Linked DNA regions of Homo sapiens. The protein of the gene in region 3 purifies or fractionates together with the protein of the main gene of each other region. This does not show direct contact. Each region holds a gene or a part of one and is shown on either strand. Other genes may lie near its edges.

Region 1 (3,649 bases), on a different chromosome or scaffold from region 3:
ATAAAGTAAATATCGGGAGTGATTCATGTTTCAAACAATCACACTGAAAAGCAGAGGTGTTATGTTTGTTTTCAAAGTCACATGGTAATGACAGAGTGGGAATCCAAACCCAGATTTATTTGATTCCAAATTTTTGCCTCTGAAAATGTTTCCTCACTTCAGAAACATAGTCTACATTTTAAAAAAGTTATTTTAACATCATTTCAGATGTACAGAAAAGTTGTAATAGTACAAATAATTCCTAAATACCTGTAACACAAATTCCACAAATGTTGAACATTTACTACTTCTGCTTGATCCTTCTCTCTTCCTTATGTAAATGTTTGTTTTCTGAGCTGTTTAAGATAACTTATGAGCATGATGCCTCTTTACTTTGAAATATTTGTGTACATTAAGGAAAAAAAGTCATATAACCACAAGACATTAATACTTAAACAATAAACAAGGTTATCTATAATTCTTACTAATTGAGATTATAAATTGTCCCAATAACGTCCTTTTACGGTAAAAGAAAATTCTAAATTAAGGATGCAATCAGTTGTGATTTCTCTTTAGTCCTTTAATCAAGAATAGCTCCTATACACTCCTAAATTTTAACGCCTTTAAACCAAAACCCTATTGACCTATTTAGGTTGTTGCAGGTTCCTATACCATTAGGTCTCTAAAGTCGTATTTTTAAAATAAACAACTTCAAGTCACTGATCATAAAGATCTTTCCCATAATAAATATTTTATTGGAGATGTATATAAAATTCAAACATTTTACCTTTTGTATCAGGATGTATCCAGGATGTTGCACAATTAATTTTCAAAGGACAGCCATCAAAAACTTTTGAAAAGCATGCTCCCATCTTATTTATAAAGAAAGAAATGTTAACTTATTTGATTAGAAAATTTTATATATTCTTGGAAAATAACTAACATCATTGAAATACCAAATTAACTCTTATTTGCGTATGCTTGTTGTTTCATTCCAAAACAAAATTCATATTTTCACATCATTAAACCCCTACTACCAAGACAGTCTCATATTCTTTCCTTTTGTAATCCACTATTTTATGGCACAAATATCAAATTTACCAAAAGATCTACATACATCAATAACATAGTCTAGGAATTTTAAGTTACTACTATTTTTTAGGACTGACAATTATTAATGTGAAACAATGGATAATTTTATTCAGTAACATTATAGTGATTACAATTGCAGTATAACTCTTTAATAGTCATAAGAGACAAAAAGGTTGATATTTATATTATACATTAGACTTTCACTGAATAAAAAAGGACAATGTATAAAGCATCCCATTCATACGATTGGTTCCCATCCCATTCATGGGATCATGGGGTTCCCATTCACAGATAAGTTCCACTGACTGGCCAGGAAAATGCATTAATATAAGCTTCCCTGGTTCCTTTTAATTGTATATAGTCCAATGTGAAAATCACTTTAGAGGTAGAAAGATATTTAATCCACATCAAGAAGAGGACACAGTACTATTAATATCATCGCATTAAAATTAAATAGGCCTTTGTAGGCTAATCTGATGACTCAACTGCCAGTATTTACAAAAAGTGAAACACTGTCAATTCCAATTCACACACTCAAATTAGAATACATGATGAGATATCCAAATGCATTCAATATCTTTGTATTTTATGATATCTTAACTTTCAAAGGCTCAAGTATATTGATAGCCAATATATTGCTGCTTCTAAAGAGAGAAAAAACGGCAAATAGTTCACATAAAAATATTCCTTACCAGAACTTTTGGGGTGGGTGGAAGGCCATTGATGGCTGGTTTCTATGGGAAAAATAAAATTTACTAGTGTAAGACCTCCTAAGTCTTAAAAAGAAACTTGAGACATTTAGAACTTCTGTTACTTGAATTACTGAATTAAACAGACTATGCCCCTTGCATGATAAATATAGTATTATTTACAACTAATTGCTAAATGCCTGTTATACCTACAGGGAAGTCTCGTTTGTCCTTTTTTCGTGGTAACTGTGGTGCTTGTGCTGATCCTTCTGTATTTTCACTCATCAGTTTTGAAATACCATCACCATTTCCTAAAGAGAATCATGTTAAAAGTTGAATGACCACACAAATAAGCACTTTCCTTGAAAAATTATTTCCCCTTTCTCCCACTATTTGTCTTTCACTTGGGTGATCCTTTATTGGGGAATATTCTCTACTCTCAGGTAAGTTATCTTTGGTGTCTTTCTCTAGATTCTATAGAGGTAGCATTGCATCTTTAGCAGTGGTCTTAATCCATGTTTTTCCGTATCATGAAGAAAAAAAATCTGACCTACTGACTCTGATATGCAAGGCTTTTTATAATTGAACTTCAATCCACCTTTTCAGTTGTATCTTCCAGTATATACCCTTTAAAAGCTCACATTTCTATTATAATAGACTGCATAATTCAGATTTCCCAGCTTCAGTGCATTTCATCTACCTACTGAAGGCTCACCAAGCCCTTTAACATCCTGCAAGAAGGACCAGGTACGGTCACTCATGCCTGTAATTCCAGCACTTTGGGAGGCTGGGGCAGGCGGATCACTTGAGCCCAGGGGTCTGAGATTAGCCTGGGCAACACGGCGAAACCCCATCTCTACAGAAAAAAAAAATCCTGCAAGAGCTTAGTTTCCTTATTCCCCATCTTTATCTCCCTCAGAAATCTCTGGTCTTCTGTTACATCCAGGTAATTATTTCAGAAGACACATACATAAACTGTCTTTCCTAATGTTATGTGTATGTGGGTATACCTTCTGCTGTAGACCCTGAAGTTCTGGGGGCAGAAACATGCATTCACCCTTCTAGATCCTATAATAAATATTTAGTAAGGATTCAAATTAGGATTGAAGTGAACTGAAATCTATTTATAGCCCATCCATGCAGAATTAAAGAGCCTTTACAAAGCTTTAAGCTATAATAGGATTGACTAAATAAAAAAGATATTTTTTGAAATAGGAACAAATGACTCTCATTTCAGTTTTCACTTTGATTTATTCACCCAGATAACAATATCTAGCCATATGTACCCCATGGCTGCTAATAATGCTAGCCATACCAATAGAAGAAGTCTCTGCCACAGGCCCACAACTTGGGCTACTCTGTCTTCTGAGAATTTGGGGAGCTCTGCTTTCTGAATCAGGACAATGTTTTATGGTTGATGCTTTTTCTTCATCCGGAAAGTTGTCTTCAGGGTAACTGCTTATCCTTGGCTAGTGGTACAAAGACAAAAAAGTACTTTAACAGTTATCATTAGGCATCAGAGTCTTTAGGGAAAGGGAAATGCACCTTTTTTCATTCTTCTATACAGTTCAATTCACTGGGCTAAGTGAGCAAAGTAAGAGGTGAGTTACTGCCCAACACAACTATCAACTTGCCATGTGATTTTTAATCAGCCTTAAAACTGATAAAATTTTTATAACTAATATAATTATATAAAAATCCACAAAACAACTAGAAACAATCAAGAAAAATGACTCCACTAATATGTCAAATTGTAGTCATAAGAATGATAAATGATGAACTGTTTCCCCTCCATGTAGTCAAATATTTTCTTCAATAAGCAATAACCTGTTTTTGCCTTTTTCTTTCTTTCTTTTTTTACTGAGATGGAGTCTCGCTCTGTCACCCAG
Region 2 (4,135 bases), on a different chromosome or scaffold from region 3:
TCGAACTTGGGAGGCGGAGGTTGCAGTGAGCCGAGATGGTGCCACTGCACTCCAGCCTGGGCGACAGAGCAAGACTCCGTCTCAAAAAAAAAAAAAAAAAAAGTTGAGTCCTTTTTGCATTCTTTTGATATTTTGATATAAATACATTTTGATATAAATACATTTCAATGCATGGTTTATAAAAGTAAAAAAAGAAACCATAAAAGCATGGAAATAAAAATTATAAACTTCATAAGCTTGGTAAATGCCCTTTAAGCATAAAACCAAGAATCCATAAAATATTCTATTGATAAATTTGACTCTATAAAACTAAGAGTTGCTGGGCGCGGTGGCCTGTAATCCCAGCACTTCGGGAGGCCAAGTCGGGCGGATGACGAGGTCAGGAGTTCAAGACCAGCCTGACCAACTTGGTGAAACCCTGTCTCTACTAAAAATACAAAAATTAGCCGGGCTTGGTGGCACGCGCCTGTAATCCCAGCTACTCAGGAGGCTGAGGCAGGAGAATTGCTTGAACCTGGGAGGTAGAAGTTGCAGTGAGCTGAGATCATTTGCACCATTGCACTCCAGCCTGGGTGACAGAGCGAGATTCCGTCTCAAAATCAATCAATCAATAAATAAAAATAAAATTAAAACTTCTACATGGCCAAAATACCATAAACTAAATAAACAGGTACTTGACAAAATGAGAAAAAAATATTGTATCACATACCAGACAAATGACTTAATTTGTAAAAGATCAGTATATAAAAGCTGAATAATCCAATAGAAAAATGAGCAAATAAACAAGAACGGGCAACACCTACAAAGAGAAAAGCACTGGCCATTAAATACATAAATACTCAGCTTCACTAATTATGAAAGAAATGCAAACTAAAACAATGAGAAATGATTATTTTATTTTTAATTAATTAATTAATTTATTTATTTTTTGAGACAGAGTTTTTGCTCTTGTTGCCCAGGCTGGAGTGCAATGGCGAGATCTTGGCTCACCGCAACCTCTGCCTCCCGGGTTTAAGCGATTCTCCTGCCTCAGCCTCCCGAGTAGCTGGGATTACAGGCAAGCATCTCCACACCTGGCTAATTTTGTATTTTTAGTAGAGACAGGGTTTCTCCATGTTGGTCAGGCTGGTCTCGAACTTCCGACCTCATGGCCTGCCTAAGCCTCCCAAAGTGCTAGGATTACAGGCGTGAGCCACCGCGCCGGGCCATGATTGTTTATTTTTAAGATTGGCATAGAAAAGAAAATTTGGCAGGGCACGGTGGCTCACACCTGTAATCCCAGCACTTTGGGAGGCCAAGGCAGGTGAATCACCTGAAGTTAGGAGTTCAAGACTAGCCTGGCCAACATGGTGAAACCCCATCTCTACTAAAAATACAAAAATTAACCAGGCATAGTAATACAAAAATTACTCAGGAGGCTGAGGCAGGAAAATTGCTTGAACATAGGAGGCAGAGGTTGTGGTGAGCCGAGATCGCGCCACTGCAGTCCAGCCTGGGCGACAGAGACTCCGACTCAAAAAAAAAAAAAAAAAAAAAAATTGTCGCTGAATGCAGTGGCTCACACCCGTAATCCTAGAACTTTTTGGGAGGCCAAGGCTGGTGTATTGCTTGAGCTCAGGAGTTCGAGACCAGCCTGGGCAACATGGCAAAACCTCGTCTCTACAAAAAAATGCAAAAATTAGATGGTGTGGTGGCACATGCCTGTAGTCCCAGCTGCTCGGGAGGCTGAGGTGGGAGAATCACCAGACCCTGGGAGGTCAAGGTTGCAGTGAGACATAATGGCACCACTGTACTCCAGCCTGGGGGACAGAGCTAGAACCTGTCTTAAAAAAAAAAAAAAAAGAAAGAAAGAAAGGCTGGGCGCGGTGGCTCACGCCTGTAATCCCAGCACTTTGGGAGGCCGAGACGGGCAGATCACGAGGTCAGGAGATCGAAACCATCCTGACTAACACGGTGAAACCCCGTCTCTACTAAAAATACAAAAAAAATTAGCCAGGCTTGGTGGTGGGCGCCTGTAGTCCCAGCTACTCGGGAGGCTGAGGCAGGAGAATGGCGTGAACCTGGGAGGTGGAGCTTGCAGTGAGCCGAGATTGCACCACTGCACTCAAGCCTGGGCGACAGAGCGAGACTCCGTCTCGAAAAAAAAAAAAAAAAAAAAAAAAGAAGGAGGAGGAAGGAGGAGGAAGAAGAAGAAGAAAAAAGAAGAAAGAAGAAGAGTTTGTCCTTTGTCCAGTTTGCAAGGGTGTGAGGGAACATGTTCCTGAGCATTGTTGGCAAAGCGGTGAACCCTCTTAGGAGAGTTTTGAGAACCTTAATAAAAGTATAAAGTACGTATCTTTTGAACCAACAATTATATTTACAGAGAAATCCAAATAAATCACGCAAACCTATAAATATGTAGAAATGGCAGTTGGAAGAATATTTGCTGTTTAAAGAAATTTAATTTTAGGTACCAAGCAGTTTCTAAATTTGGGTGCATCAACAAACTCAATGTCTAGGTTTGTCTTGTTTCTACAGTATATGGCTATAAAAACCTTCCGGATCACGAAAATAAAAGCACAGATAAACAATTAAAATATCGACACTCAAGAGTCCAAGTCGGAAGTTAGAATATCTGGAGAAGCAATCTGATTCACATAAACCTTTTTCGTTTTATTTTTTTAACATAAATCCTATCTACCTGGCTCTTGCCCTGACCGGCCGGAGAGAAACGGTGACAAACCTGGAACAACGTTGGACCAAAGACACTTCAGGAGGAGCAAAAGCGCGTTATCGTAGACCCAGGTCCCTCGTTGTGTCCAGTACCGAGCTTTGGCACTGTCAATAAGTCTTTTGAGAAGGATGGCATCCCTACCTCAGCTACTGAGCATGCGGGAAACTGCGCGCAAGCGCACAACAGCGATTTCACACTGCCTCTTTAGACTCCTGATCCGCGGGAAAATTCCACTTGTCCGTGTTTTCTCCAAGCTCTCCGTAGGTGCAAGTCACCTGTTGCATTAAATAAAAGCGAAAGATGTGTCAACTTTCAAAGATTGGCTAAAAAAAGAAAAAGAAGAAGGAAAGAACACATTAAGCCAGCAACAGTGTGTTGAAACAAAAAAAAGATTGGTTTTGGTTTCAGCTGTCTTCCAGCCCACTTCGTAGAGTTCACTGTTTTAAAATGTTCTTTGTATTAGTGATACCACTCTGCGGCTATTTAACTTCGAACCCCTAGCGGTCCGTGGACAGGCTTCAGCAGGTCCACCACACACACCTCCACCTCCCACTCCCCACGCAATAACACAGCAACTTTATGCAGAATTGTGTCAAAGATGCTTGCTTACCTTTTTTTTTTTTTTTTTTTTTTTTTTTTTAAGCGATAGATAGCTTGCTCTGTCGCCCAGAGTCGATTACGGCTCACTGCTGCCTTCCCACTTCTAGGCTCAAGCCATCCTCCCGCCTCAGCCTTCCGTGTAGCTGGGACTACTGGTGGAGGTGCGCGCCACCACACCCAGCTAATTAAAATATTTTTTGTGTACAGATGGGATCTTTTACTGGGGGGCGTGGTTGGGGAAGGGGGCAGTGTCTCATCCTGTCGCCCAGGCTGGAGTGCAGTGGCGCAGTCTAGGTTCACTACAACCTCCTCCTCCTGGGTTCAAGCGATCCTTCCTCCTTAGCCTCCCAAGTAGCTAGGACTACAGGCGCGCCACCACGCCGGGCTAATTTTGTTTGTTTTTTAAGTAGAGACGGGGTTTCATCATATTGGCCAGGCTGGTCTTGAACTCCTGACCCCAGGTGATCTGCTCACCTCGGCCTCCCAAAGTGCTGGGATTACAGGTGTGAGCCACTGCGCCCAGCTTAAAAAGGCTTTTACGTCTTCATTTGATTTTCACAATAACTCTGTGAGTTAAGTAGACCCTTTTTGGGAAGTGGAAAAATATACATAACTTAAATTATATTACTTTAACCATATATATATATATATATATATATATATATATATATATACACACACACACACACACACATATATACATATATATATTTTTTGAGACGGCGTCTTACTCTGTCGCCCAGGCTGGAGTGCAATGGCTTGATCTCGGCTCACTGCAACCTCTGCCTCCCAGGGTTCAAGCTATTCTCCTGCTTCAGCCTC
Region 3 (3,649 bases):
TGGCATGGACACACAGAGGCTGCCCATGGGGACAACTGCAGGGCTGAGCCCCATCCCCACATCACCAACCTCTCCATCAGGCCCCTTACCACAGCTCATCTATGAGGGTTTCTGGACAGGTGGCCCCAGTGTGGCCCCAGGGTGATCGAGGCTTCCAAAGAAAGCGCCAAAGACCACATTTTCCTACTCTCAAGTGTTAAGTGTACACTTTAAAATAGTTAAGGGACAGTAGAGCTGGGCATAGTGACTCATGCCTATAGTCCCAGCTAATCTGGAGACTAAGGAGGGAGGACTGCTTGAGGCCAGGAGTTTGAAACCAGACTGGGCAACATAGCAAGACCCCATCTCTACAAAATAAATAAATCATTTTTTAAAAAGAAAATAGTTCAAAATGCTCCCCAGCTGAAAATATTCCAATCCTCAATACCACAGTAAGTCTTCTAGAACTTGGAGTGCCTTTTTTGCAAAGTGAAGAGGATCTCTTTGTGGCCTGTGAGATGCCCTCCCAGGCCAGATGCTGGGCATGGAGCCCTGGGCCTTCAAGATGGAACAGATGCAGAGAAAGAGCCAGGCATGGTGCCTTCCTCCCCGAAGTGCTGCCCCCAGGTGGGACCCACCTTCCCCACCCCTGGTAGGCTTCAAGGGCCCCCCCGTCTATGTTCACATTCCACTCCCGTTCTTCCTCACCATGGTCTTTGGCAACTTTCCTAAGATACTTGGTTCATAATTTCAGAGACTGTTTGCAGGCAAAAATCTCCTCTGGGCTTTCTGTGTAAGGACCTACAGAACTGGACACCCATGCTGCCAGCACTATACCACAGGCCAGGCGGAGGGCAGGCCTCACCCAGGGATAGCTGTGGCCATGACAAGCCTCTCTCCCTTCCAGGCCTTGGCTTCCTCATCTGCACCTACCAGCAGGGCTGCTCACTGACCTCCGATGCCCCCGCCCTCCAGCCTCGGCCCTGGCACCAGCTTTTGCCTGACCTGTGGTATGCTCTCCTGGCCACTGCCTGTATCCTCAGGCTAGGTCCAGGAGGCTGACCCTCACTCTGCAGCCTTTGGAGCCGGGAGAGTTGCACAGGCTCTGAGGAGCCCAAACCCCCAACCCCCAACCACAGGAGCCCGTGTATCTGCTCAAGGCATGGCACCCTTGGCACCCCACCTCCACACAGCTGCTGAGTGCCAAGTCCTGCTGGTGCCACGGCCGCAGAGGAACTCTCCTGAGACTAATCAGACCCACATGGAACTACTGACCGGGAAAAGTGGTTCCTGAGCATGGGGGCATGCAGAGAGCACAGGGGCTCTGCCACCTGGAGTCACGAAGGCATGGGCAGGAAGAACGGCTCCGGACAGCAAGTGCCCCGCACCAGCCCTCGGCCTTCCACCTAGGGGACACTGCAACTCTCCCAGCCTCCATAGCAAGTGTGCAGACCCATGTGGGGCAGGGCTGGGCATGCCACACACAAGGGATGCTCAACGAACAGCAGGCCTGGAGCTCGGGAGCCAGGAGAGAGGCCCATGGACCTGCCCTTGTGGAAGGAGGCAGCTTCAGGGCCCGCCACAATGTGCCGACCACTTCCCGTTTGCCTGTCCTGGCAGAAGGCCCCGGACTAACAGCATTGGCCAAGTTCTGGGGCTTTGGAGGGGGAGGAGGGCAGGAGGGAGGAATGCTCACTTCACGGAAGGGCAAAACACCAAAACCTCCGCAGTTCCTGCGGCCTCATCTCCAACAGGAGCTTCCCTGGGAGCACAGCATCCCAGTCACTCCAAGCCAGGGCTGCGGAGGGCTGCTCTGCACAGCCTGCCCGTGGGAGGGAGGACACCCGGCCAGAGCCACTCTATGTGACTGTTCTTCACAGCCTCAGCTTTCTCCAGGGATCCGGCAGCCCTCATGCCATCACAGGAAGCCTTGGGCTTCACCCCCAAATACCCGAGTTGGTACATCTGTGACAGGCTCAGTCCTCAGAATGTTTGCCAAGTCACGAGGAGCAACGTCCCTGGAGAGGCTGCCACAGCCCCCAGTGGAACCCCACTTCCTGATGAGCCTGAGGCCTGCCCCCGAGGCAGTGCTGGGCAGAGCCGCCATCCCCCTCTGGCAGACCCACCTCAGGTCGGCTGCTATGAGGTTGAAGCCATTGTACAGATGGCCCTCCATAGAGACCTTCTTCAGGTAGGACAAGCTGTCCACGTCAGTGGTCAGAAAGTGGGTGACAAGTTCACCTGTAGGCAGGGGACAGATGCTGTGTCCACAGCTGCAGGCATGTGCTCTTCTCCCAGGAACACTGATATGGGGCCCCCTGGGGAGGATGCAGGAAGATGAGGGGTCCCACTGGAGCCCTGGCCTGTCATGACTGCCGCAAGAGTCAGCCACACCTCATTAGCCTGGCTGCCACTCAGGTCGGCACTGAAAACTGCTCATTTTATTAAAAAAAAAATTTCCCCACTATGTCTTCCTATGGAAATCCAGCATGAAGTAAACAACACCTTTCAGTGGGGACAATGTGTGTCCACAGAGCTGTCGTCTCGGGGAAGGCATCTACTCTACAAACATTCCAGGCAGGGGACAGTGACACAGCAGTCAGGAGTGCCATGCATGAGGACAAGGGGAGAGTGCGCCCTGAGAGGAGTAAACAGTGCTGCGTGGGTCAGGTGGGAGTGGGCTCCTGGCTGCGACGCCAGAGGGCCAGGGTGTGGGAAATGGGATGCTCCCCTCCTCACTCTTCCTGTCTCTGCCGCATACCCCTGCAGCACACCTCAGTGGCGGCAGTGATATGCCCACGGAAGCCACCCACCTGCCACGGGGCCCAGCTTCCCCCTTCTTGTCCCCACCCTTACCTGGGCCCTGCCCTGCCACGCTTTGTCACCGCCCACTCTGTAACCTGGCCCTGCCCCACGGTACCTCAGCCCTGCCCCATCCCACTCCCAAGCACAAGCACCTTGGCACTTCCTACCTTGGCCCGCCCCACTCCACCATACATTGGCCAGTCCTGTAGTCCCTTGGCCCCACCTTGTCTCACCTAGGCCTGCCCCACCCCACCCTGTCTCACCTTGGCCCCACCCCACTCGCCTTACCTCGCCCTCGGGCCTGCCAGTCCAGCTGCGGCTGCAGGTAGTTGGTGAGTGCTGCCAGCTTGCCACGTGTGCTGATGCCCAGCCATGTGCCTCCTTCCTTGCCTTCCTCCATGTCCAGCCCTGTGGCAGATGACAGTGTTACCACCATTGATGCCACCCATTCCAGTCCCCCACCTGGTTCCCAGCCCTGGGAGACGCATACTCGGCCCAGCTCCTGCCTCAAGCTCCTCGAGGACGTTCGACATGCGGCTTGGCCCAGCAGCCCCAGCTATGGAATCGTGGCTGGAACTCTTCAAGGCCAGGCAGCCCCTGGGGTTCATGGGTCGTGCAAGTGAGATCCCTGTCCTGCAGGACAACTATGACACCAACCACACCTATCCCAACAGATGCCCTGCAGAACACATCCTTCCACTTGGGCCAGCGTCAAGGCTGAGGGGCAGCACTAGGCTCCAATCGCATGAATGGGGTGCAGGGACGCTGGCTGTCCTCACCCAGCAGGATGCACCAGGCCCAAAGGGCAGGCCCTTCACTAGGAGCCCAGCACACAACCAGGACCTTCACCCCCGCCAAATCTGCA

Evidence for each region.
Region 1: the proteins of TANGO2 (region 3) and MAP4K5 fractionate together in Homo sapiens (co-fractionation; one large-scale study listed by BioGRID). This does not show direct contact.
Region 2: the proteins of TANGO2 (region 3) and BPNT1 fractionate together in Homo sapiens (co-fractionation; one large-scale study listed by BioGRID). This does not show direct contact.

What each region holds. Positions count from the first base shown.
Region 1 is NC_000014.9:50,441,966-50,445,614, forward strand, and holds part of MAP4K5 (mitogen-activated protein kinase kinase kinase kinase 5), read right to left. Parts: intron 3,230-3,649; coding exon 3,076-3,229; intron 2,072-3,075; coding exon 1,974-2,071; intron 1,806-1,973; coding exon 1,764-1,805; intron 852-1,763; coding exon 767-851; intron 1-766. UniProt on the Homo sapiens protein: May play a role in the response to environmental stress. Appears to act upstream of the JUN N-terminal pathway.
Region 2 is NC_000001.11:220,086,964-220,091,098, forward strand, and holds the start of BPNT1 (3'(2'),5'-bisphosphate nucleotidase 1), read right to left. Parts: upstream 2,826-4,135; 5' UTR 2,723-2,825; exon of another isoform or gene 2,681-2,722; intron 1-2,680. UniProt on the Homo sapiens protein: Phosphatase that converts 3'(2')-phosphoadenosine 5'-phosphate (PAP) to AMP and inositol 1,4-bisphosphate (Ins(1,4)P2) to inositol 4-phosphate. Is also able to hydrolyze adenosine 3'-phosphate 5'-phosphosulfate (PAPS) to adenosine 5'-phosphosulfate (APS).
Region 3 is NC_000022.11:20,052,008-20,055,656, reverse strand, and holds part of TANGO2 (transport and Golgi organization protein 2 homolog), read right to left. Parts: intron 3,193-3,649; coding exon 3,073-3,192; intron 2,298-3,072; coding exon of another isoform or gene 2,221-2,297; coding exon 2,106-2,220; intron 1-2,105. UniProt on the Homo sapiens protein: May be involved in lipid homeostasis.